3 separate regions of the Homo sapiens genome follow, and all the other regions are linked to region 3. The links come from fine-mapping of genetic effects on gene expression. A gene starts in region 3. Each other region holds a variant in brackets. All regions are shown on one strand. Distances are between the middles of the regions. Region 1 overlaps ACSF3 (acyl-CoA synthetase family member 3). Region 2 has its middle 11 kb from the start of DPEP1. Region 3 holds the start of CPNE7 (copine 7).

Region 1 (7,585 bases), 460 kb after region 3:
GTGAGACTCAGATGAAAGTACCAAGTGCGTCTGCGAGTGTGAGCGTGGGGTGGGGAGTCCCTTCACATGAGAGAGCAGCAGGTCTCTGATGCTGGGGCTTTTCAGAGTTCACAGCGCCCATCATCACCTGGTTGTCCTGGGGCGCCCACCCACCCCTCTGGGAGCCCTGAATCTCAGGTGTCGGAGGGCACAAACCCTGAGGCCCTCAGGCTGTGCTCCTCCCCACGAAGGGTCTTGGCCCCTGGTGGAGCCAGGCCCCGCAGGGCAGCTGTACTCCACCTGCTGCACCGACTCCTTGGCTGAACTGGAAATGTTCCCGGGCCTGCTGTCAGCAGATGCAAACCCCCCGTACGCTGAGATTTAAGCAGCCCCAGAGCATCTGTGCGGCTTCACCTTGCAGGGTCTGCCTGCATGCCTGTCGCAGAGGCCCCTGTGCGGTGTCTCTGACTGTCAGGGTGCCCAGGTAGCTGAGGCTGCTGCTTCTATTTCAAGACTGCTTCAGGGAAGAAACCAGCAGACACAAATAATTAAAGAAACTCAGGCAGGAGCAATCAGGTGGCGCGGCAGCCAATGCAGGTGTGAAGCAGTTAAGTTTTGTTTTAATTTAAGACAGAAATGCTCCCCACCCCCGCTCCGCCCCTTTCTCTGGCAACATTTCTGCCATTTCCGGCAGAGCAGGTGCTCAGAGGCAGGAGTGTCAGCTGACTGACACCTGGAGAGGGCTGCACAGCCACGGGGCGTCTCACTCCTCCACACGCCACTCACGTTCTGCTCTCTGCTGGGGACATTTCTGACTAGATGGTGTCCCCAACCCAGGCACAGGCTGAGCCCCGTCCCTGCAGACAGGGTTGGAACTGGCTGAGCTGGGAGGTCCTCGAGTTGGGGGCAGGGGCACTGCAGGGCACAGACTTGAGAGCCAGGAAGGGCCGGTGTATTCAGGAACCTGAGATGTGGGGTGTGGCCAGCAGCCTAGTACCAGCAGGGCAGAGGCAGGAATCCCAGGAGAGGCATGTCAGGACAACAGCATGGGCTGGGGCCCTACAGAGGGCAGGGGAGGTGGGTATAGCAAGGGGCAGCCACCCAGGTGGGTTTCAGCAAGTTGCCCCATGGCTCTGTGGGGGCCACAGGGATAACAGCCCACTGCGGGGGGCCCAGGCCAGGCGGGACACACTGTGCGGCCCTCCACACAAGGTGCGGCCACTGCAGGTGGCCCCAGGTGAGAGGTTTCCATGGGGAAACAGAATACCCACTTCAGGGCCACGGGGGATAACAGCCCACTGCGGGTGGCCCAGGCCAGGCGGGACACACTGTGCGGCCCTCCACACAAGGTGCGGCCACTGCAGGTGGCCCCAGGTGAGAGGTTTCCACGGGGAAACAGAATACCCACTTCAGGGCCACGGGGGATAACAGCCCACTGCGGGGGGCCCAGGCCAGGCGGGACACGCCGTGTGGCCCTCCACACAAGGTGCGGCCACTGCACCTTTCAGTGTCATTTAATGACACTGAAAGCCACCCACATCCTACTTGGTTGCTGGAGCTAAAACGTCCAACCACGACCATCGCTCCAACCCTCACGTGGTCATGTGTGGAAACCAAGGTACAAGGAGGGCGTGTGGCTGTTCACTCACGAGAGCAAGGCCCACGGCCCCTCAGCCTCTGCACAGGGAGCTCAGTTGTGCCCGTGAGGGCCAAGATGGTGTCACAGAGAAGGAAATGCACAGAGATGAGACTCAGGATCCCTCGATCTTTGAAAACCTCAGGGCAACACAGTCAATCATGTGTGGTATCAGGTGTGGATACTGGCTTCAGAGAAAATAATTTCCTTTTAAATCAAGATTCCATTTCCCCATAATCCCTAAACCTTTCTCTGTGATGAGTTCACGTGTGATGAGCAGACTCTCATGTTAAAATCCTCACAGAAATGAGACAATGTCCTTTGTTCTTGTTCACCCTTGTCAGCTTTAGAATAACGCACAAGACAAGGAGGCAGCCACAGAGCACTGCACAGGCACCCACCTCCGCGTGCAGGGCCCCGTGAATCTCCCCACACCTACTATGGGGGCCTGTGGTCAGCGTCCCCTCAGGACGGGTGCCAGGGTCAGGCCAGTTCATATTTCTAACCAGATTCCCATCAACAACAACGGCCTCTGCTCTTTATCTCTTCCGCTTAGCCAAGGCCATCATGGCCCACGTCAGCCTGTCCCCGTGGACAGGGCCCCTGGGAGGAGCTGTGTGCCCGGGTGTGAGTCCCTTTGGCGTTCCGCCCTGGGCTCCCTCTGCCCACTGCTCTGTGAACGCACAGACGGACACGCAGCAGGCAGGGCCCAGAACACCAGCCAGTGCCCTTGCAACACCAGCCAGCACCTGCAGTGTCCAGGGGGCTGGTCCCCTGCGTGGAGGGGAGTCTGCCTCCAGGGGAAAGATGCACCAGTGTAACCACCCTGGGGGGCCTAGACTGGACACACGGCCGCCCACCTGCCAAGAGCAGAGTGGCTTACCTTGGTCCCCCTCTCGTCTCCCTCTGCGTGGATGGTGTAGGAGCAGGCTTCCCTCTGTGGGTTTTCTGAGACAATGCGCACCTGTACTCCAGGCAGTGGGGTCCCCACGGAACCTACAGGAGAGGAGAAACACTGAAGGGGAGGCTGGAGTGAGAGGAACCTGGAGGAGAGAAGCACACACTGAGCTCGGATCCCGCTGAGCTCCCGTGTGCCACGTGCGGGAGTCTGTGTGGAGGGAGCGACGTGCCCTGTGACCCAGAGAGAAGATGGTGTAGGCACCAGCAGGTGAAAAGCCACACGATACGTGGCTGGCAAGCACGGTGTGCTCAGGCCCAGCCGATGCCACAGTGATGGCCATGTGGCACAGCAGGCACTCACGTGGCACGCTGGGCCTGGCCTGCCCTGGGCCCCTCATACATCACTTTCCCAGTTACTTCCCAAAGCCTCACAGCTGCCCACAGATTCTGGTGTCATTCCCACTTTTACACACTTGCTGGCCAGGGAGGGCTGGCGCCTTGCCCTGATGGCCCCGGGGCTGTCCACGATGAGGGGACCTGTGTGTGCCCGGCACACGACGGGCTAAGGCAGGATCTGCCCTATGTCCCCAGGAGGGGCTGTCCTGAACTCTGCATGGCAGGTGGACCACACTTTGTACTGGCTCATTTATTAGACACCCATGATTTGCTCAGTGTATCCATCCCACCTGCACAGTCTCAACGTGGCTAAAATCATATCTTACACTGGCCGGGGTGGGGGCAGAGCCCAGGTGGCGAGACGTGTCCCGCCGGCACACGCAGGGCTGCCGCAGCCTCGCTCTGCCTGTGGTTTAGGTTGCTGGTGGGACGGCAGAGGCTGCTCATGGAGTGCGGCCCTGGCGATGTGGCGTCAGCACGGGCATGACCTAGGGGCAGAGCAGACGTGGGACTTCCTGTCTATCCCGGGGCGTGAGGCCTTTGCCCTGGCCTGCGTCAGGGGAGTGCCTGAACGCTTATCATGTCTGAGTCCACGCTGAGATTTCCGGCACTTCAAGGGTCAGCATCGAGGGTCAGTGCAGTGAACTCTGCAATCCATGGGGCGTCCCGGCCTCCAGACGCTTGGTGAGGGGCTGTCGGTGCCCGGCTCGGTCTTGCTGATCCTGCTGGGCCTGTCCACACCTGGGGTCCTGCAGGCGAAGCCGGGCTAGTGTGGTGTGCGGAGTGTCACCTCGGGAGTTCTCTGTGG[T/C]TCCAGGTATGCAGACGCCCCGAACCTCCACTCTGGTCAGAAACCCGTGTCACCACTATGGGGGGTGTGGCGGGGCCAGCTTCAGCCCCCTTTCTTCCATCCTTTCTCCTCCTTTATGTTTTGCTTCTGAAGATTTTTAAATGGGGGTGAAACCCGCATAACACATGACTTCCCATTTCAGTGCGCGGCACGGCGGTGTTCCGCACACACATTGCACAGCCCCCCACTTCCCCTAGTCAGAACTCCCGCACAGCCCACGACCGCCACACCCTCCCTCCCCAGACCTGGCACCAGGTCTGCTGTCCGCGTCCGTGGTTTTTCTGTTCTGGGCGTTTCATAAGAAGAGGACCATCACAGGCGGCCTTTCGCCTCTTCCTGGTGATGCCTCTACTGGGGCGGGGACGCAGCGCAAGGACACGGCACGGCTGGGGTAGGGGCGGGGGCCGCAGGTGGGGAGGCCGTGTGGCCGTCCCACACCATCTGCAGAGGCTGAAGAGGCTCTGGGATGGTGTCTGGATTCTGCAGCAGCCAAGCAGTGGTATTGTCCATGAGAGCTCAAGGAGTGGCCCCCACACTCCAGGTGCCGCCCGTGAGAGCTTCAGGGAGGGGCCCCCACACTCCAGGTGCCACCCATGAAAGCTTGAGGCAGGGGCCCCCACACTCCAGGTGCCACCCGTGAGAGCTCGAGGGAGGGGTCCCCACACTCCAGGTGCCGCTCGCTGTGCCCCGGGCATGTGACAGTGTGGACATGAGAGCTCAAGAGAGTGGACAGAGGCTGGCCCCGCAAAGGCCAATGTAGATGGGAGCGCAGCTGCAGGCAGGTGGGGGGCACTGCCTTCCTGCCACAGCCCACCTCTAAAATCGCTGTCAGCCAGCCCCTCCCTGATAACTCTGACTGGGGACTGGGACCCAGGGAACGGAAACCGCCAATGAGGCCCTGGAGCTCCCTGTCAATGCCACAGAGTGGCCCAGGAGCCGTGAGCACCTCTGAGCTCAACCTCCAATTAGAGTGTGACGAGGCCCAGCAGTGGTCGGCCATGAATTATTCATCTCCCTCCACAGGAACCGCACGGAGCAGGCCTGTAACCATAACACACGACAGAGCTCACCCTCCACCCAGCTTCTCTCTCTTCCGAGCACGGACAGTGCACTGAGCAGCGAGGCCAAGCATGAGCTCAGAGCCTGTGGCTGGAGCCGACCCAAGGGTCAAGGCCATGGCCACCAGGGTGGGGGTTAGAGCCTGAGAGTGAGGAAAGCTCTCCTCCACCGTGCCCTCTAGAAACATGGCTCAGGAGGCTGCATTTTGGAGTTTTTGTGGGGCATATTGGATTTAATGCTGAGGTGACTTTACTTACTTTTTTCCAAACCAAAGAACTCACACTGCTGGTGATTTAAAGGCAAGGATAAAATCACAGATATTTGATTCTGCCTTAGAGAAGAGGGAGCGTCCCCGGCGCCCCAGGGAAACTGCCGTATGCTCTGCCTTAGAGAAGAGGGAACATCCCTGGCGCCCGAGGGAACCTGCCGTCAGGCTCTGCCTTAGAGAAGAGAGAGCGTCCCCGGCGCCCGAGGGAATCTGCCGTGGGCTCTGCCTTAGAGAAGAGAGAGCGTCCCCGGCGCCCGAGGGAACCTGCCGTGGGCTCTGCCTTAGAGAAGAGGGAACGTCCCTGGCGCCTGAGGGAACCTGCTGTGGGCTCTGCCTTAGAGAAGAGGGAATGTCCTTGGCGCCTGAGGGAACCTACTGTGGGCTCTGCCTTAGAGAAGAGGGAGCATCCCCGGCACCCGAGGGAACCTGCCGTCGGTAGCTGAAGACTCGGGGATTGGTGCACTCAGGTTTCTTGCCCAATAACCCTGAAGCTTCAGGGTCTCTGGATCCCCCTCCTCAGCCGGGGACTCCTCTCCCTGTGCCATCTGTCTGGGGCTCCTTCCTGTTCGCCTAGGAGTTCTGATTCCAGCGTGGGGAAGCTGAGCCTCCCCTGGGTCTCTGGGCTACTATCTGCTCCTTGGCGCCCTCGGTGTGGACGGCGGTCCCTGGGCTGCTCCTTGGCGCTCTTGGTGTGGACGGCGGTCCCTGGGCTGCTCCTGACGCTCTCAGTGTAGACAGTGGTCCCTGGGCTGCTCCTGACATCCTCGGTGTAGACAGCAGTCCCCGGGCTGCTCCTGACTCCCTGGGTGTAGACAGTGGTCCCTGGGCTGCTCATGACTCCCTCGGTGTAGACAGTGGTCCCTGGGCTGCTCCTGATTTCAGCTTCTCAGCCTTGTATCTGTTCCAGTAAAAAAGGCTAGGGGGGCACTGTCCATCTTCTCTAGTGAGGGCCATTGAAGAGGTCACCGTGCTCCTGGGAAGTGCATCACTCACCAGCCGCGTGACCGTGGGCAGGCTCATGGGTTCTTGTATGTGAGTGCAAAATATGACCCCATCGCAGGGGCTGTTTCGAGAAGATCAAAAGAGAGGACGCCCACAAAGCAATGCTGTGGATGAACAGTCATCATGAACTACAAACTGTGCAGACAGATTCTGAATACACAGAACTTGTCCTGCTCACATGTCCGGAACAAAGAGAGGACAAAGCCCAGAGCCCGTTACCCTTTCAGTCCTCACTTGCCTGCAGCCTGCAGCCTCAGCGAGCCGGGCTTTGCTCATTCCGTCCATATTACGTGGTGACTGTGGCCGGTGGCACTGGACAAAACCAGCACATCCTACTAAGAAGGACAACGATAAGGACAGAGACTCAACAGACCAGTCACATTTGATTTCAAGGTCCCCATCTTATTTCCACCAGAGAGCTTTAGCCACCGAAGAAACAGCTGGTGCCGCAGCCATCGTGGAGATGCGCGAGTCAGCCCAGAGCAGGGGCCGCTAGCACTGACGGAGGTGGAGGTTTCCTGGGGTCTGAGACTAACGCGGGAGCCGGCCCAGGGCAGGGGCCACCAGCACTGACGGCGGTTTCCTGGGGTCTGAGACTAGGATGTATTTCTCATCACTCACACTGACTTCTTTTCACAACATGCCCCCACCCGCCCACTGCCCTGGGCACTGTTGCAGCAGGCACTGCACTCTGTGCGGCCACCCCACTGGCAGCTCTGCACGGCAGCTGAGGATCTCGCTGCCATGGCCCTGTCATTCTGCTCAGGATGCCCCAGCCAAACCGAGACTTTACACTCAGAATACACTTAACAGCCCCCATGGCTCCCCAGGCCCAGCAAAGGGGCGTGAGCCTACAGTCTCTCCTCCTCCCAGCCCAGCAGCCAGCCAGCCCTCACACTCACCTTGCAGGCCCCAGCACCGTATCGCTGCCTGGCACCAGCTGGTCCCTGCCTGGGCCTGAACCCCCATGTCCACGCTTACCCTAGAGTCCCAGGAACCAAGCAGGCATGGAATGAGCCAAAGGGCACACGGAAAGCAATGGGACAGAGCAGAGCCCAGGAGCCGACCCCTCAGGAGTCGACGGACTTTCAACAAAGATCCAAAGGGCTGTTCGATGGAGAAGGGAGTCTTTTCAACGAACAGTGCTAAAAAGTTAGACATTCACACACTAAAAAAGAACTGTGGTCCGTATCTCGCACTATGTACAAACATTAACTCAAAATGGATCATGGTCCCAAACGTAAGAGCTGAAACTATTCTCTGTGACTTTGGGCTACGCAAGGATTTATTAGATATGACATCAGACAATTCACAAAACAAATTGATAAACCGGGCCAAAACCTAAAACTCCTGATTTTAAAGACGCTGTTAGGTGAATGGGAAGACAAACCACAAGCTGGGAGATGATATTTAAAATCGCACAGCTGACACTTGGGTCCCGAATTTTAAAAGCTCTCAAAACTCAAGAAAACAAAGGCCCCAGTTGAAAACGGAATGA
Region 2 (6,907 bases), 27 kb before region 3:
TTAGTCCAATCCCATCCCTCCCCACTCTGGCCTGCCCCTGCCTTGGCCACCACCTGCTCCTGGGCTTCGTGGCACAGATGTTTCCAGAGAGGAGCTTTCTTGGCACGGCCGGTGGAGGTGACGTGGTGGTGAGTGCGGGGACTCGACCTCAGGCACCTGGGCTGTTCTGCCGTCCTCCCTGGAGGCAGGGGAAGGGGAAGGCAAGACAGCATGAGGACTGATGGCAGGGGCTGCCTGGGAATCCAGACCCACCCCTGCCTGCGGGAGCCCCCCCTCACACCAGCCCAGGCCGGGCAGCTGCTACGTGAAGATTGAATGGAGGTTTTTGCCTGGGAGGTGAGGACTGTGGCAGAATCTACCACGGCCGCCCCACCGTGGCTCTGAGGCTTCTGGGAGGGAGACAGGTACTCCCCAAGGGCCCTTCCCACCGGAGGCCCACGCATCCCAGCCACGCCCGTTTGCCACTGAAGAGCAGACTACAGGGACCGTGGGTGGTGCTGGCAGCGGAATCCCACAGCCCCGGGGCCAGCGGGTACTTGCCCAGAGCACCGTCTCTCTCCTGCTGAGGAAAGGCCTTCCCTGGCCAAGGCGGCAGGCAAGGCTGACGAGGGCTGAGGCTGGTCCTGGGAGGGCACCTGAATGTGGGCCTCTGCTAGTATTTAACGGTGGGGATGGCGGAGCTGGTGTCCACCTGCTAGAACCTGCCTGGGCCTCTGGTAGGGCACGTGTGGATAACAGACCCCCCCACGGAGCCCTCCGGCTGCACTCCCTGCCTGCGCCACCCGGCAGGCACTGACCCACAGCAGAGGACGCAGTAGACAGGGACGTGGTCCAGGCCATCACCTGCACCTGCTTGCCAGGGAACATGCGCGCCCAGGAGCCCTGGCAGGACGCACGTAACTTCCAGTCCCAGGACACCGACGTCCACCTGGTGACATTGCCCAAGTCAGGTAAGGTGCGGTGGCTGGGGCGAGGTCTGGGCAGGATGGCTCACACTACACCATCCACACTGCCCCAGCAGGCCTCAGTCCCCCCAGACACTGGGGACTGAACCCCACCACCCGAACCCCCTTGCAGGCACCTGTGCAGCCCATGGGAGCCCAAGGGCTGCCTCTCCGGCCTTGTAACAGAACGGCCTTCCAGACAAGGGAGTACGTCTGCCGTGGTCAATTTCAGGCACCAGTCAACACCTGGGGCCTCCGCAGAGCCTTCATGGTCTCCTTGGCAATGCATCCCACCAACCTGGCCGCCTAGGCCCGACTCCCCAGCCGCAACGTCCTCACCCAGGGCCACCCGCAGCCGCTGCTCCCCACCCCACCCGCTCTTGTGTGTCTGTTGGCCCACAAGTCTGTCTGGACTTTTGTGTGGACACCGATGTGTAGCTGTGTGTCTGCAGGAAGGACGTTAACTGGGTGTGGGGATCATGTAGGGTGTATGTGCACAGAATGGGGGGTCCCGGTGGGGACGTGGGGTTCCACCTATGGCTGTGAAATGGAAACTTTTTCAGCTGTGGCTGCCTGAGGAAGGCCCTGTGTGCCCAACCTGAGGCCCTGGCTTTCACCCACGGGATGAGGAGAACAGTCCCTTCCAGCCCTGGCCTCCAGCCCTCAATGCTCCCCTCCAGCCCCCAGTGCTCCCCTCCAGCCCCCACTGCTCCCCTGCAGCCCCCAGTGCTCCCCTCCAGCCCTCAGTGCTCCCCTCCAAACCCCAGTGCTTCCCTCCAGCCCCCAGTGCTCCCCTCCAGTCCCCAGTGCTTCGCCTCCAGCCCTCAGTGCTCCCCTCCAGCTCTCAATGCTCCCCCTCCAGCCCCTAGTGCTCCCCTCCAACCCCCAATGCTCCCCCTCCAGGCCTCAGTGCTCCCCTCCAACCCCCAGTGCTCCCCTCCAGCGCCCAGTGCTCCCCTCCAACTCCCAGTGCTCCCCTCCAACTCCCAGTGCTCCCCTCCAGCCCCCAGTGCTCCCCTCCAGCCCCCAGTGACCCCCTCCAGCCCCCAGGGCTTCCCCTCCCACCCCCAGTGCTCCCCTCCAGCCCCCAGGGCTCCCCCTCCAGCCCCCAGTGCTTCCCTCCAGCCCCTCCAGTGCTCCCCTCCAGCCCCCAGTGCTTCCCTCCAGCCCCCAGGGCTCCCCTCCAGCCCCCAGGGCTTCCCCTCCAGCCTCCAGTGCTCCCCTCCAGCCCCCAGTGCTTCCCTCCAGCCCCTCCAGTGCTCCCCTCCAACCCCCAGTGCTCCCCTCCAGCCCCCAATGCTCCCCTCCAACCCCCAGTGCTCCCCTCCAGCCCCCAGTGCTCCCCTCCAGCCCCCAGTGCTTCCTGCCAGCCCCCAGTGCTCCCCTCCAACCCTCAGTGCTCCCCTCCAACCCCCACTGCTTCCCTCCAGCCCCCAATGCTCCTCTGCAGCCCAGGGCTTCCCCTCCAGCCTCCAGTGCTCCCCTCCAGCCCCCAGTGCTTCCTCCAGCCCCCAGTGCTCCCCTCCAGCCTCCAGGGCTCCCCTCCAGCCCCCAGGGCTTCCCCTCCAGCCCCAGGGTCCCCTCCAGCCCCCAGGGCTTCCCCTCCAGCCCCCAGTGCTCCCCTCCAGCCCCCAGGGCTTTCCCTCCAGCCCCCAGGGCTCCCCTCCAGCCCCCAGGGCTTCCTCTCCAGCCTCCAGGGCTCCCCTCCAGCCCCCAGGGCTTCCCCTCCAGCCCCCAGTGCTCCCCTCCAGCCCCCAGGGCTTTCCCTCCAGCCCCCAGGGCTCCCCTCCAGCCCCCAGTGCCCCCCTCCAGCCCCCAGTGCCTCCCTCCAGCCCCCAGTGCTTCTCTGCACAGTGGGATGATAATGTACTGTCCTGGTGGAGTAATGGGGCACCAAGACCTTGCACGTCACTTGCTCCACCTGGGGTCTGGATGCTGACTGCCTGGGATGGGGAGGGCTGGCAGTGTGGCCAAGTCCCAGTGCAACTGGGGCTCCTAAAGATGTTTCAGTAAAGCAGTGAGGACCAACACCCCCACTCCAGCCTCTTCCACATGCACAGGGCAACACATCTACACCTGTGCACACGTATGCACCCATACATCCATGCACACACATGCATGCACACACATGCACACATGCATACATGCCTATGCACACACAGAGCAACACAGATACACCCATGCACACATATGCACCCGTGCATCCATGCACCCACACATGCCTATGCACACATGCACGCACACATGCCTAACAGACACACATGT[G/T]CTCAGCCAGGACCTAGGGGCTCCAGGCTGAGTGCTGGGAACCCAGGGGCCAGACCCAGCTCGCCACCCTGCCCTGCCTCCCCAGCAGTGCACCTAGGGTTTTTCTGAGGTCGGCCGTCCCGTCAGTGAGATGCACTCACAACAGTCAGCCAGGCGGGGTTGTTGTGGGAACTTAGCTCAGTGAGTACTGGAATACTCAGTACTCCTGGGCTGTGGTGGGTCTTGATGGGGTGAGGGGAGGGAGGCACCAGCTGGACAGGGGTCCTGGGTGGGCTCTGATGGGGGTGGGGCCCCAGTGCAGGGACAGGTGAGGCGTGAGGTGGCAAGGAAGACAGCTTTCGCCCACGGCCCTGCTGTGCCAGGGGCCGGCGGTACTCCTGTCTGACAGCCCTGCCACAGCCCCCGCACCAATTACAAGCACTTAGTCACAACTTCCTGCCTGTACTCGCCTCGGCAGCAGGAGAAAGAACAGCCTGGACGCTGAGCTGCTGCTCTTCCCACTCCCTCCAGCTGCCCCCCCCACCCACCGAGTCAGAGCCCTCATCCGACTCCGCGCATGGGTGGGCAGGGGTTGACCCCGCGTCCTCAGCCTGTGAGGCCCAGGCAGCCGGTGGCCAGCAAGACAGGGTGGGGGATGCTCAGCAGCTGTGATTGGTGGTTCCTGAGAATAAGGAGAAGCCGGCTCCCCTTGTGAAACTGACACCTATTTATCCAGCAGGGGCTCCTGCATCCCTCGTTCATTCCTCACAAGATCCCTGGGAAAGAGGATGTGTCTGTTACCTCCTGCCCTACGACTCATCACGCCCAAACCGAGTGGCTTCGAACAGCAACCGTGGATTAACCCGGGCCACGACCTGGGTCAGGAATCCACACGAGGATTTGCCGTGTGGCTTTGGCTCAGGCCTCTCGTGAGGATGCAGGCAGGGCATCCTGCCCGGGGCTACAGGAGCTGCTGGAGGTGGTGCACTCGCATGGTGGCCCCTGGCACTGGCTGCCAGCCGGGAGCTCAGCTGGGGTGCGGGCGCTTGAGCTTCCTCGCAGCATCGTCAGTTTCCCGGGAGCCACATCTCCTGAGCACGGGAGCAGCGCCCAGCATTCTTACCGTGGGGTGTCAGAATCCACGTGGGGGCCAGGCACAGTGGCTCACGCCTGTAATCCCAGCACTTTGGGAGGCCGAGGTGGGTGGATCACTTGAGGTCAGGACCAGCCTGGCCAACATGGTGAAACCCTGTCTCTACTAAAAATACAAATAAAAATACAAAAATTGGCCGGGTGCGGTGGCTCACGCCTGTAATCCCAGCATTTTGGGAGGCTGAGGCGGGTGGATCACGAGGTCAGGAGATCGAGACCATCCTGGCTAACACGGTGAAACCCTGTTTCTACTAAAAATACAAAAAATTAGCCGGGCATAGTGGCGGGCGCCTGTAGTCCCAGCTACTCGGGAGGCTGAGGCAGGAGAATGGCATGAACCTGGGAGGCGGAGCTTGCAGTGAGCCAAGATCGCACCACTGCACTCCAGCCTGGTCGACAGAGCCAGACTCCGTCTCAAAAAAAAAAAAAAAAATACAAAAATTAGCCAGGTGTGGTGGCACGCGCCTGTAATCCCAGCTACTTGGGAGGCTGAGGCAGGAGAATCACTTGAACCCGGGAGGCGGAGGTTGCAGTGAGCTGAGATCCCACCGCTGCACTCCAGCCCGGGTGACAGAGCGAGACTCCATCTCAAAAACAAACAAAAATAAGCCACATTGGACCGAAGTCTTCCTAGGTTCAAGAAGAAGGAACATAAACCAACTTCCAATGGAAGGGGCTGAGGAGTCTAGAGCCATGTTTCAAAGCTGCTATATCCGCGTGACAGGCAAGGAACAAGGCTCTGACTCACTGAGACTGTGATGGCTTGTCCAGGGTCACACAGCGGGAGCTGGTGTCCAGCTTGACTGAGGCTGTTTCCAAATCTCAAATCCACCCCCGAGGAGGAGCTCCTCCGCCTGCTGCAGGCAGTCCCTGGACTGGGTCCCATGGTGGCCCTTGCTGTGGGGTCCTGGCAGCTACACACTTTCTGCTTCTTATTTGGGAAATAAGTCCACATCCAGGCAGGTCATACCCAGGCTATTCTCAGCAAGGGTCAGGCTCTAATTCGAGGTCAGGAGGGGCTGAAGACTCAGGGAACCCATTGGTCTCACCTGGGGGTCTCCACACCGGCCGGCAGGACCCCTGACTGCCCTGCCCTAGGGGCCCCTCTGGGTTTCAGAGCCGGATGTCACACCCCGGGGAGGAAGATGCCTGACAGGTGGACCTACAGGAACTGCAGAACTAGCATCTCAATTCCTAGGACTCAGCCTGGAGCCTGCAGGTCCCGGCTAAGCACGTGTCCGTGTGGATGTGTTAGGCATGTATGCACATGTCTGTGCATGGATGCGTGGGTGCACGTGTGCGTGCGTGGATGTGTGGGTGCGTGTGGGTGCATGTGTGTGCATGGATGTGTGGGTGCGCGTGTGTGTGCACAGGTGTATACATGTTGCTCTGTGTGTGTGTGCACACCAGCTACACAAAGCTAGCACCTCTGCTTCTGACTGGCTGTGTGACCTTGGGCAGGGCACCTCACTGTGCTGAACCCTGATTTTCTTGTCTGTGAAAAAGGAGCATCTGTCATCCTTTTGGGGCAGGATCCTTGGGTGGCAAATGACAGAAACCCAGTCCCACCTGAGCTAATCAGAAAGGGAGCTCATGGCTCCTCAATGGGAAGTATCGGCTCAGGAGCAGGCCTGACAGGAGCAGGCCTGAGCATGCACCTGCCACCAGCTCTCTGGGTAGTGTCCTTCCCAGGCAGGCCCTGCCCATGTGACCCCGCTAAGTGGTCACTGTCCACAGCTCCTCAAGCCAGGAAGAAACAAGGGGTCCCAGAACTGAGTCTCACGGGCCAGCTTGGGGCACGTCCATCCCTGGAGCAAGCACTGTGGCCAGGAGGCAGCAGCCCCTGCCTGGCCAGGCCTGGATCCTGTGTTCATCCCAGTGACCCACGGGGTTAGGGGGAGAAGTCAAATTATTATTGCGTGCGTCTCTGAGCAACGTTGGGCTGCTTTCTCAGGCTGGGAATTGCTGGCGAAAGTCACATTCTCAGAGCTGAGCTGGCAGACGCCATCCTGTCCCTGCTGTCCCTCGATGGTCTCAAACACACCCCAGACACCCAGCAGCACAGAGACCAGGGTGGCCCAGCCTGCCCACTGGCCTGACCCCAGGGCTGCTGCCTTCTGCCATGGGAGGACGGCAGGAGAAGAGAGGGTGGGAGGAGGGGGCTGGGGTGCTCACAGCCACTCCCTGCTTGCTCCATAGGGGTCTGGGAGTGGCCACATCCCTGTAAGGCAGCAGTTCTGGGAAGGGACACACTCCCTCCAGGGCGCCAGCTCACCGAGTGACCTGCCCATCCCTGTCTGTCTGAGGTCAGCTCCCTGGCGCCCCACTGTGGCCGCCCCAACCCTGTTCTGAGGTAGACTCCTCGGCACACCTGCTTCCTGCTAAGATCTCAATGGACCAACACCTCTCGACTTTGAGTCAGCCCAGAAACCGTCTGACACTTTCTGGCCCAAAAACCACAGGCAGGTGGCACAGGGCACCAACACTCACCCTCTGTCCCAGCCCCTGAGACCCCCGACCCGCTCAGGGCCCCAGCCCCGATACTCACCCTCTGCCCAGCCCCTGAG
Region 3 (7,585 bases):
GTTGGCCAGGCTGGTCTCGAACTCCTGACCTCGTGATCCCCCCACCTCGGACTTCCAAAGTGCTGCGATTACAGGCGTGAGCCACCGTGCCCGGCCTGTAAATTTTACCTCAATAAAAAAGAAGGACCCGTCCTGGCAAGGTGTGAGGATTCCGTGCAGCACAGGAAGTGCTTAGCGCAGTGTCCAGCAGGGCCCAGCACATCAACAGACACTCTCATCACGACTTGCAGAAGCCACTTTTGGGCTGGCTGTGGAGGCCGTAACCCAGAGAGCATCACCAAGGAAGCAGTGGCCACCGTAGGACCTGCTGCTCACAAGGAGGCTTCTTTTTTTTTTTTTTTTTTTGAGACAGAGTCTCAATCTGTCACTCAGGCTGGAGTGCAGTGGTGAGATCTCCACTCACTGCAACCTCTGCCTCCCGGGTTCAACCGATTCTCCTGCCTCAGCCTCCAGAGTAGCTGGGATTACAGGCACATGCCACCATGCCCGGCTAATTATTGTACTTTTTGTAGAGATGAGGTTTCAGCATGTTGGCCAGGCTGGTCTCGAACTCCTGACCTCAAGTGATCTGCCCGCCTCGGCCTCCCACAGTGCTGGGATCACAGGTGTGAGCCACCACGGCCGGCCACCAGGAGACTTTTAGGTGCTGATATGGAGGGGCTGCTGCACGTCGTGGAAGTGAAAACGCAGGATGCAGAACAGGGAACGTAATTTGTGTATTTTTGAAAAAAGAGGAAAAGTGGGCTGGGCACCGTGGCTCACGCCTGTAATCCCAGCACTTTGGGAGGACAAGGCAGGCGGATCACGAGGTCAGGATTTCAAGAGCAGCCTGACCAACATGGTGAAACCCCGTCTCTACTGAAAATACAAAAATTAGCCGGGCGTGGTGGCGGGTGCCTGTAATCCCAGCTACTCAGGAGGCTGAGGCAGGAGAATCGCTTGAACCCAGGAGGTGGAGGTTGCAGTGAGCCGAGATCACGCCACTGCACTCCAGCCTGGGTGACAGAGCGAGACTACATCTCAAAAAAAAAAAAAAAGAAAAAGAAAAAAAAGAAAAAAGAGGAAAAGTGATAGGCTGGTTTGCTCCTGTGAAAATCTCTCTCTGGACAATGTCCAGGGACCTGGCAGCAGCTGGATGGGGCAGGATGGAGGCGCTCCACAGCCTTTTATACCTTCAGGCTTTAAAACATACGAATGTATTACCCAGTTCAAAATTACATGTATATTTTAATCTAATAATGACTGTTCAGGAGGAGCTGAGGAGGGGGCAGAGCCAGGTTGGCCACCCCAGCAGGGTCCCTGCGGTGCTGGTACATCAGCCTTGAATCGGCTGTGGCCCCCACGCCAACCGTCCTCCTCCCTCCGAGGGGACGGGGCACCCACCTGCCCCAGGGTGCACTCCATGCCCCCCAGGAAATCGTCCTCCTGACAGCTGAAGCCGCTGGGCCCATGCGTGTCGTACACCTCAAAGCGCAGCCTCTGCACCTCCTCGAAGTAGTAGTCCACCGTGAAGACCTTGGAGAACACGGGATGCAGGCTGCTCCGGACCACCTCGGTTCTGCCCACCTGCAAGTGCACCTGTGAGCCGACCCCACTCCAGAGGCTTCCACCCCGGGCTCCAGACCTCCATCTCCCCTCTGCCGCTCACCCACGCCCAGGTACCTCAGGAGGACTCATACCCTGGGAAGACCTCCTGCCTGCTCTCTGTCCATGGGACCACAATCCCGAGGGCCACCCTGGGGGTCACCCCTGGCCACCACTGTCTGCTCCACCCTCAGATCACAGATGGGGAAAGTGAGGCTCACAGAGGACGAGAATGACACGCTGAGTCGGGGGCGAGATCAGATTCACACCCTGGGCTGGGCAGCCCTAAAGTGCAGGCCGCTCCCCAGCACCAGCTGAGTGGGGAGGGGGCGTAGGGTACAGGGGGGCCCTCCCTCCTGGCTGGGGTACCATGGGCTCACCAGCCTCTCCCATCCCATGCAGTTCCCTGGTCCAACTGCCCCGTAAGGACAAGACCCAGCTGGGCCAGTAGGCTACTCATTTCAGAATCCTGAAAAATCCTGCACCTCAAACCAAGGGCAAACATGGGCCACCCGTACAGCTCACGCTCTGAGGGTGCGGGCACGAGGCCTCCGTGGGGATGGTGGGCTCGGGATGTGAAGGGTGGGCTCAGGCTGTGAGGGGCGGGCACGGGGCCTCCGGGGGCAGCCGGAACCCTGGGGACAGGCGGTGAGGGCGGGGCAGGCCCTTCACCCTCAAGGTGGATGACCGGAGACGCCACCGGGTGACCGCGTCCCTTCCACCGCCCGAGCAGCCGCCCGGGCCCGCGCTGGAGCCTGGAGAGACCCCTGCGCCGGGGAAAAGCGCTGGCGCCCCGCGCGGACTGGGGTTCGAGTTCCGGCTCCTCCGCCCGCTGCGGCTTCGCGCCATGCGTTTCTCGCCCTTTCGAGGTGAAGCCACGCGTTTCACGCGAGATGGTGACCGAGGAAGCGCCCGTCTGGCGCCGGCCCCGTGCCCCTTCGGACCCCAACCGCGATCACAGCGGGTTCGCTTGAGACCCACGTTGGAGCGGGAGCCCCGGACGCCTGGAGGTCCGCACCCCAGCGCGCGCTCCCTCGCCGGCCTGCTCCCGCCCAGCCTCCCGCCCCCCGTCGGCCGGCGCCCCTCACCCCTCAATCTCCTTGCGCCTCTTGGTCGAGCCCCCTGCCCGCGCCTCATGCCTGGGCGCTTCACTCTGGCCCGGGGCCCCCTCCCCGAACCCTGGGCCGCACCCCTCACTGCGGGGCACCCCCCTCTCTCCTCCGAACCCCGCTCGCCGCCACCTCCTCCAGCCCAGCCTCTCCCCACAGCTCTGGACACCCCACCCCCAGACCTGGTAACCCCCAACCCTGACCCCGAGCTGAGCCCCAGCTCCGGGGGGCCCCGCCTTGCGCCCCACTGGCCTCAGCGCGCCCGCTCTGGTCTCCGCATCCCCAGCTCGGCGCCAGCCCCGGCCCGGTGGCCTCTCGGCCTCCCACGCCCCGGCCCTACCTGCACCCACTGGCCCTGCGCCTGCTGCAGCAACGCCACGCTGGGGTCGGACTTGGTGAGCGGGTCGCGGTCCAGCAGGTGCCGGCAGCTGAGCCGCAGCTCCACCTTCGAGGCGCAGGGCGCGGGCAAACCCCCGGGGGTTGCCGCCGCCCCGCGCTCCGAGCCCGCGCTCATGCTCCCGGCGTTCGGGGGCCCGGCTGGGCGCACTGAGGGGCCGCTGCCCGCGAGTCGGCGCCGCCGCGGCGCCCGGGAAATGGTGGCCGGCCCAGGCGTGGCCGCGCTTCCCTGAACGCCTGCCGGGCGCGGGCGCACGTGGCTCGGGCGGCCGCCGCGCGGGGACTGCAGGGGGTGGGGCGCGGCCGGGGGGCGGGGCCGGGGAGGGGCGCGGCGGGAAATGAGGGCAGGGGGCAGAGGCAGGGGTGCCCCTCGGAGATGCCCGGGAGGAGACAGCTTCTAATTCCCCGGGGACCCCCCCCCCAACTGATAGCTTTGGGGTCAGGTCGGGCGCGCCCTCCCCGGCTGTGCGCATCCCCGGCCCAGGGACCGGCTCCGGGCTGGAGGCTCCGAGCTGCGCGGGGCCTGAGCCCGGGTTCGGACCCAGGCAGACACTAGGGGAGGCAAAAGGGGGACCCCAGCTTGGCACCAGATCCCCGCGCCCTTCCCGGATCTCTAGGATCCCATTTCCAGGCTCCGCTGGTTTCGGGTACTCGCCACCTCCATCAACAAGCATTTAGTGGGCGCCTGTTGTGTGCAGGCGCCGCGCTCGTCTGGGGCTGGAAGGACCGTCCCGGGGGGCCGAGGGCTGAATCGCGGTCTGATTCCGAGGGGTCCGCGGGGCACGGTCCACACCAGTCCCCCGAGGCCGGGGCGGGGCGGGGCAGGCCTGGGTTCCGTGGGGGGTGGGCCCGCTCCGCCCTGAACTCACTCCCCCACCTTCCCCATCACCGGTCCCGGGGGAGGGAGCAGCGGAAGAGGAGGCGTCGGCGGGGACAGAAACCACCTCGCAGTCCACTCTTTTTGCCGATTTCTGCCTAAAAATAGGGCACGGACCTCGCCAAAAGCCACGGGGGTGGGGGGCGAGGGTGAGGGAGACATTAAGACTGAAGAGGCGGGAAGACCGGGCGCCTCCGCTCAGCCTCGGCGATCAGGACTCTAGAAGAAGACCCTGCGGTCAGAGGGGACCGCCGCCGACAGGGCGAGGAGGCTCAGGGCCCCGCCGGCGGGAGGCAGCACAGGCAGCCTCGGCCTGGGAGGAGGAACGCGGCCAGCGGCGTCCCCTCGCGGTCGGACGGCGGGATGGCGCCGGGCGCGGCTGCAGGGCGGGGAGGCCCCACGGGGCTGGCAGGGCCGGGAGAGGCCATGGAGACCGGCTCCTGCCTTCCCGGGAGGTTGGCTAAAGAGGCGAGGAACAGGTCAGGGCGCAGCGAGGCCTGCAGGGCCCCATCTGCTGTCTCCCCGGCCTCTGCGCCTCCTCCCTGAAGCCCGCAGTGGGCAGAGGCCAGTCCCGCTCTCTAGGGACCAGTCTGGGCCTTCCCGGCCCTGTGTCCTCCTCAGCCCAGCCTTCCAGGCTGCCGGGAGGCCACATCCTCGGTCCCCAACCACTTCCATGGGAAAAGGATGCGAAATTCAGGCAAAGGGTGCGGGCGCCCAGGCAGCTCCTGCAGGCCGTGCCTCCCGCTCGGTTCCAGCAGCCCTGGGACAGTTTTCCCCAGACCAAGCTCCGCTTCCTGCCTTGACCTCACCCGAAAGCTCCTCACCACCGCCCTGAGGTTTGCTCGTCTGCAGTGTGGCGTGAGGCCTGAGGTCCACCAGGCTGTCTGAGGGGTACCCGGCTTAAACCTGGAACACCCCAGTTCAGCCCTTGGCTGTCACATAGCGGCACCCTGGCAAAATAACAGATGGCTTCCAAGCAAAGGACGCAGGGAGCCAAGAAAGATCACAGAGTTTGGGAATTTGAGTCTCTGAAGCCCAGGGCGATTTGGGATCTCCAGCCACAGCCCTCGGCCGGCTTGCTGTCTCCTGACTGACAGCCCTGACTGCAGCCTGCTCTAATGGAGAGAAACCACAGAAGGAAAAGCCGATTCCCCTGTGGCACTGGTGTCTGGACGCTGCCTGCCCCTGCTCAGGGATCAGCCCGCAGTAGGCCCAGGTACAATGGAAGGACCCCGCAGGCCATGTGGAGCCATCTTTCCAAGGCTCCCCCTCCCAGCTTTCCCTGCAGGGCCAGACACAGGAAATGAGATCCACACACATACACGCAGGAATAATAACCGTGTTCCTTGTTGAAATATTAGACAATGCAGATAGGGAGTAAAAACAAATTTCCAGACCCCAAAGCAGCCCATCACCTCCCCACATCTAACCCTCCAGGTTTTTTTTTTTATGTGCAAATTTCTTTTAATTGTCAAAAAAAAAAAAAAGGTGCCTAACTCTCAGAGCCCTTCCCACACTTGAGAGGACTCTTCAGTATCTGCACGCCAGGCTCATCACGCGGGCCAGGCCCGGGACCCCACGCCAGGCTCATCACGCGGCCCAGGCCCGGGACCCTGCCTGGCACGGTTGGAGCACCATAGGTGTTGGTGCAGATGGTTTCTGTTCTGTAACCTGCTTTTTTCTTTCTTATTGACAATATTGCATTCAATGGTTAGCCTGGATCCCCTCATCACTGGGTTACCTATGAGACCCTCTGATTAGTGCCGACCCCCACGGCTATCCAGAGGCTTACACATGATCAATTTTAGGAGCAGCAATGACATATCTGTGCCCAAGTGCCCTGTGTGGCTTCCTGGCATCCAGGACTCAGATACTTTTCAGGCCCAAGTGCCTCTGCCTCAGCCTCTCCCACCACCCGACCCCTACCTACCCTGCAAAGCCCAGCCCAGTCTGAACCGCCACCCAACATCCCTCCCTGGGCTCCCGGCCCACACGTCCACAACATCAGTTCCACTGTCCAGGGCTGTGCTGCCCATGACCTCATCCACCCTGGACCAGGAGTCCACCGAGGCCTGAGTTAACACCAGTACAGGTCCCAACACAGAGTCTAAGACAACAAACTCCAGGCGGATGAATGAAGTGCGGATCAGCGAATGAAACGCAGCTCTGGTGGCTGCTCTCTGGTCCTGGATCTGCCTCGAGGGTGTCATCTCCATCAGTCACAGAGTCCCCATCTCCCATTTCAGTAACACTGGCCACGAGGCCAACCGGGAGCAGGGAAACCTGTCCAGGGCCTCCAGAGGTTCCCGGCAGACCCCAGGCCCACTGCTACTGCCTTGAGGCACATCCCCTGGAGCCAGTGCTCTCCCCCACACTCTGACAGCCCTTTGTCCCTGAGCCAGGTCCAGAGTCCATGGCCTCCTCCCTGGCCGTCCTGAGCACACAGCTGGTGTGCTCCAGTGGACCGGTCCGGGGCTCGGTCCCCACCCCTGAATGCAGGGTCCTCGAACCTGCCCTTCATGTGGAGAGATTGTCCCAGAAGTTGCCTCAAAACAAGAAATTGCAGAGGGTGGGGGTTACTAACAGGATTGTTTAACAGGAAACAGCTCTCCACGTGTCCGGATGGGTGCTGCTTTTTTTAATCTGGTTGCAAACCTACCCTCTTCTTTTCTTTCCTCCTAAAGAAAGGTTATTTTATCTTAGAACATCTGCAACCTGTCTGGATCAGATTGTCTTCCTGCAGGATCTGATGCTGATCTTATTTGAGAAATCAACCATGCCCAGAGGCGGCCACGCCGGCTGTTGGCTGAGACAACACACCTGGCCAGTCTCAGTTCCTCGCTGACCTTGTTACAGCCTCAGAGACCTGGGGACTGATTAGGGGGACTTTCTCCTCCACCACACTCAGCACATGCAGGCACGCACGAGCACACGCCACACACGTGTGCCAAATACCGCAGACACGTGCACGTACTCATGGAGAGACAGCCCACACGCAGACACGCCAGGCACCCAAGACACACAAGCGCAGACACAGGCCACCCCAGGGCAACATATGTTCCAACCAGGGGGTCCCCTTCCTCCACTTCCTTCCCCCAACACCGTCTTCTGGGTGTGGATGAGACCCCCTTCTTCGAGACTCCCTTCTCCTCCAGGCGCGTTCTCGCGTGCAGCCCCGGGCCGCCATCCCTCCTGCCCCTTGTCTGCATGCAGCCAGGAGCAGACCATCCCAGCCCCCAGCATCTCTGCCCAGCAGGAGACACCACTGCTGGCGGGAGACATGGCTCAGAGAGGGCGTTGTGGTGGCTGAGACCACACAGCAGGGGTGGAGCTGGAACCCAGAACCCAGCTCAGAAGCCAGCGCTCACACCTTCCTCGGCCCGTCCAGGCCCTGGGGTGGAACTGGAACCCCGCTCAGAACCCAGCCCTCACGCCTTCCTTCGCCCGTCCAGCCCCCGGCGTGGCTTGATGGCTTTGCTGCCCTTGCCCAGAATGTTCCCAGCAGACCCTCAGGAGCACTTACTGTGGAGGGGCCCAGACTTCACAGCCCCTGTGCAGTGAGACCCAGGGGTCAGGGTCCCTGCCCAGGACTGCACGCTGGGGACACCGTCCGGGACTG

Evidence for each region. PIP is the estimated chance that this variant, and not a neighbour inherited with it, causes the effect.
Region 1: its variant is the best candidate, but not a certain one, in a credible set for the expression of CPNE7 in visceral fat (GTEx, PIP 0.65).
Region 2: its variant is the best candidate, but not a certain one, in a credible set for the expression of CPNE7 in whole blood (TOPMed, PIP 0.57).

The regions. Positions count from the first base shown.
Region 1 is chr16:89,115,827-89,123,411 of GRCh38, reverse strand. ACSF3 (acyl-CoA synthetase family member 3) reads right to left here. Exons shown (of 11, transcript NM_001243279.3): 7 at 2,499-2,611. Among named protein-coding and RNA genes, the nearest start is that of ACSF3, 26 kb to the right of the region's middle. RefSeq lists an enhancer at 4,597-4,891 and a silencer at 4,597-4,891. The variant T/C (reference allele first, on the strand shown) is at 3,720.
Region 2 is chr16:89,599,346-89,606,252 of GRCh38, reverse strand. No RefSeq gene overlaps it. Among named protein-coding and RNA genes, the nearest start is that of DPEP1, 11 kb to the left of the region's middle. RefSeq lists an enhancer at 5,806-6,719. The variant G/T (reference allele first, on the strand shown) is at 3,210.
Region 3 is chr16:89,571,520-89,579,104 of GRCh38, reverse strand. It overlaps CPNE7 (copine 7), which reads right to left and starts at 3,347. Exons shown (of 15, transcript NM_153636.3): 1 at 3,034-3,347; 2 at 1,384-1,566. The coding sequence starts at 3,207. RefSeq lists silencers at 3,884-3,953, 4,194-4,423, 4,884-5,141.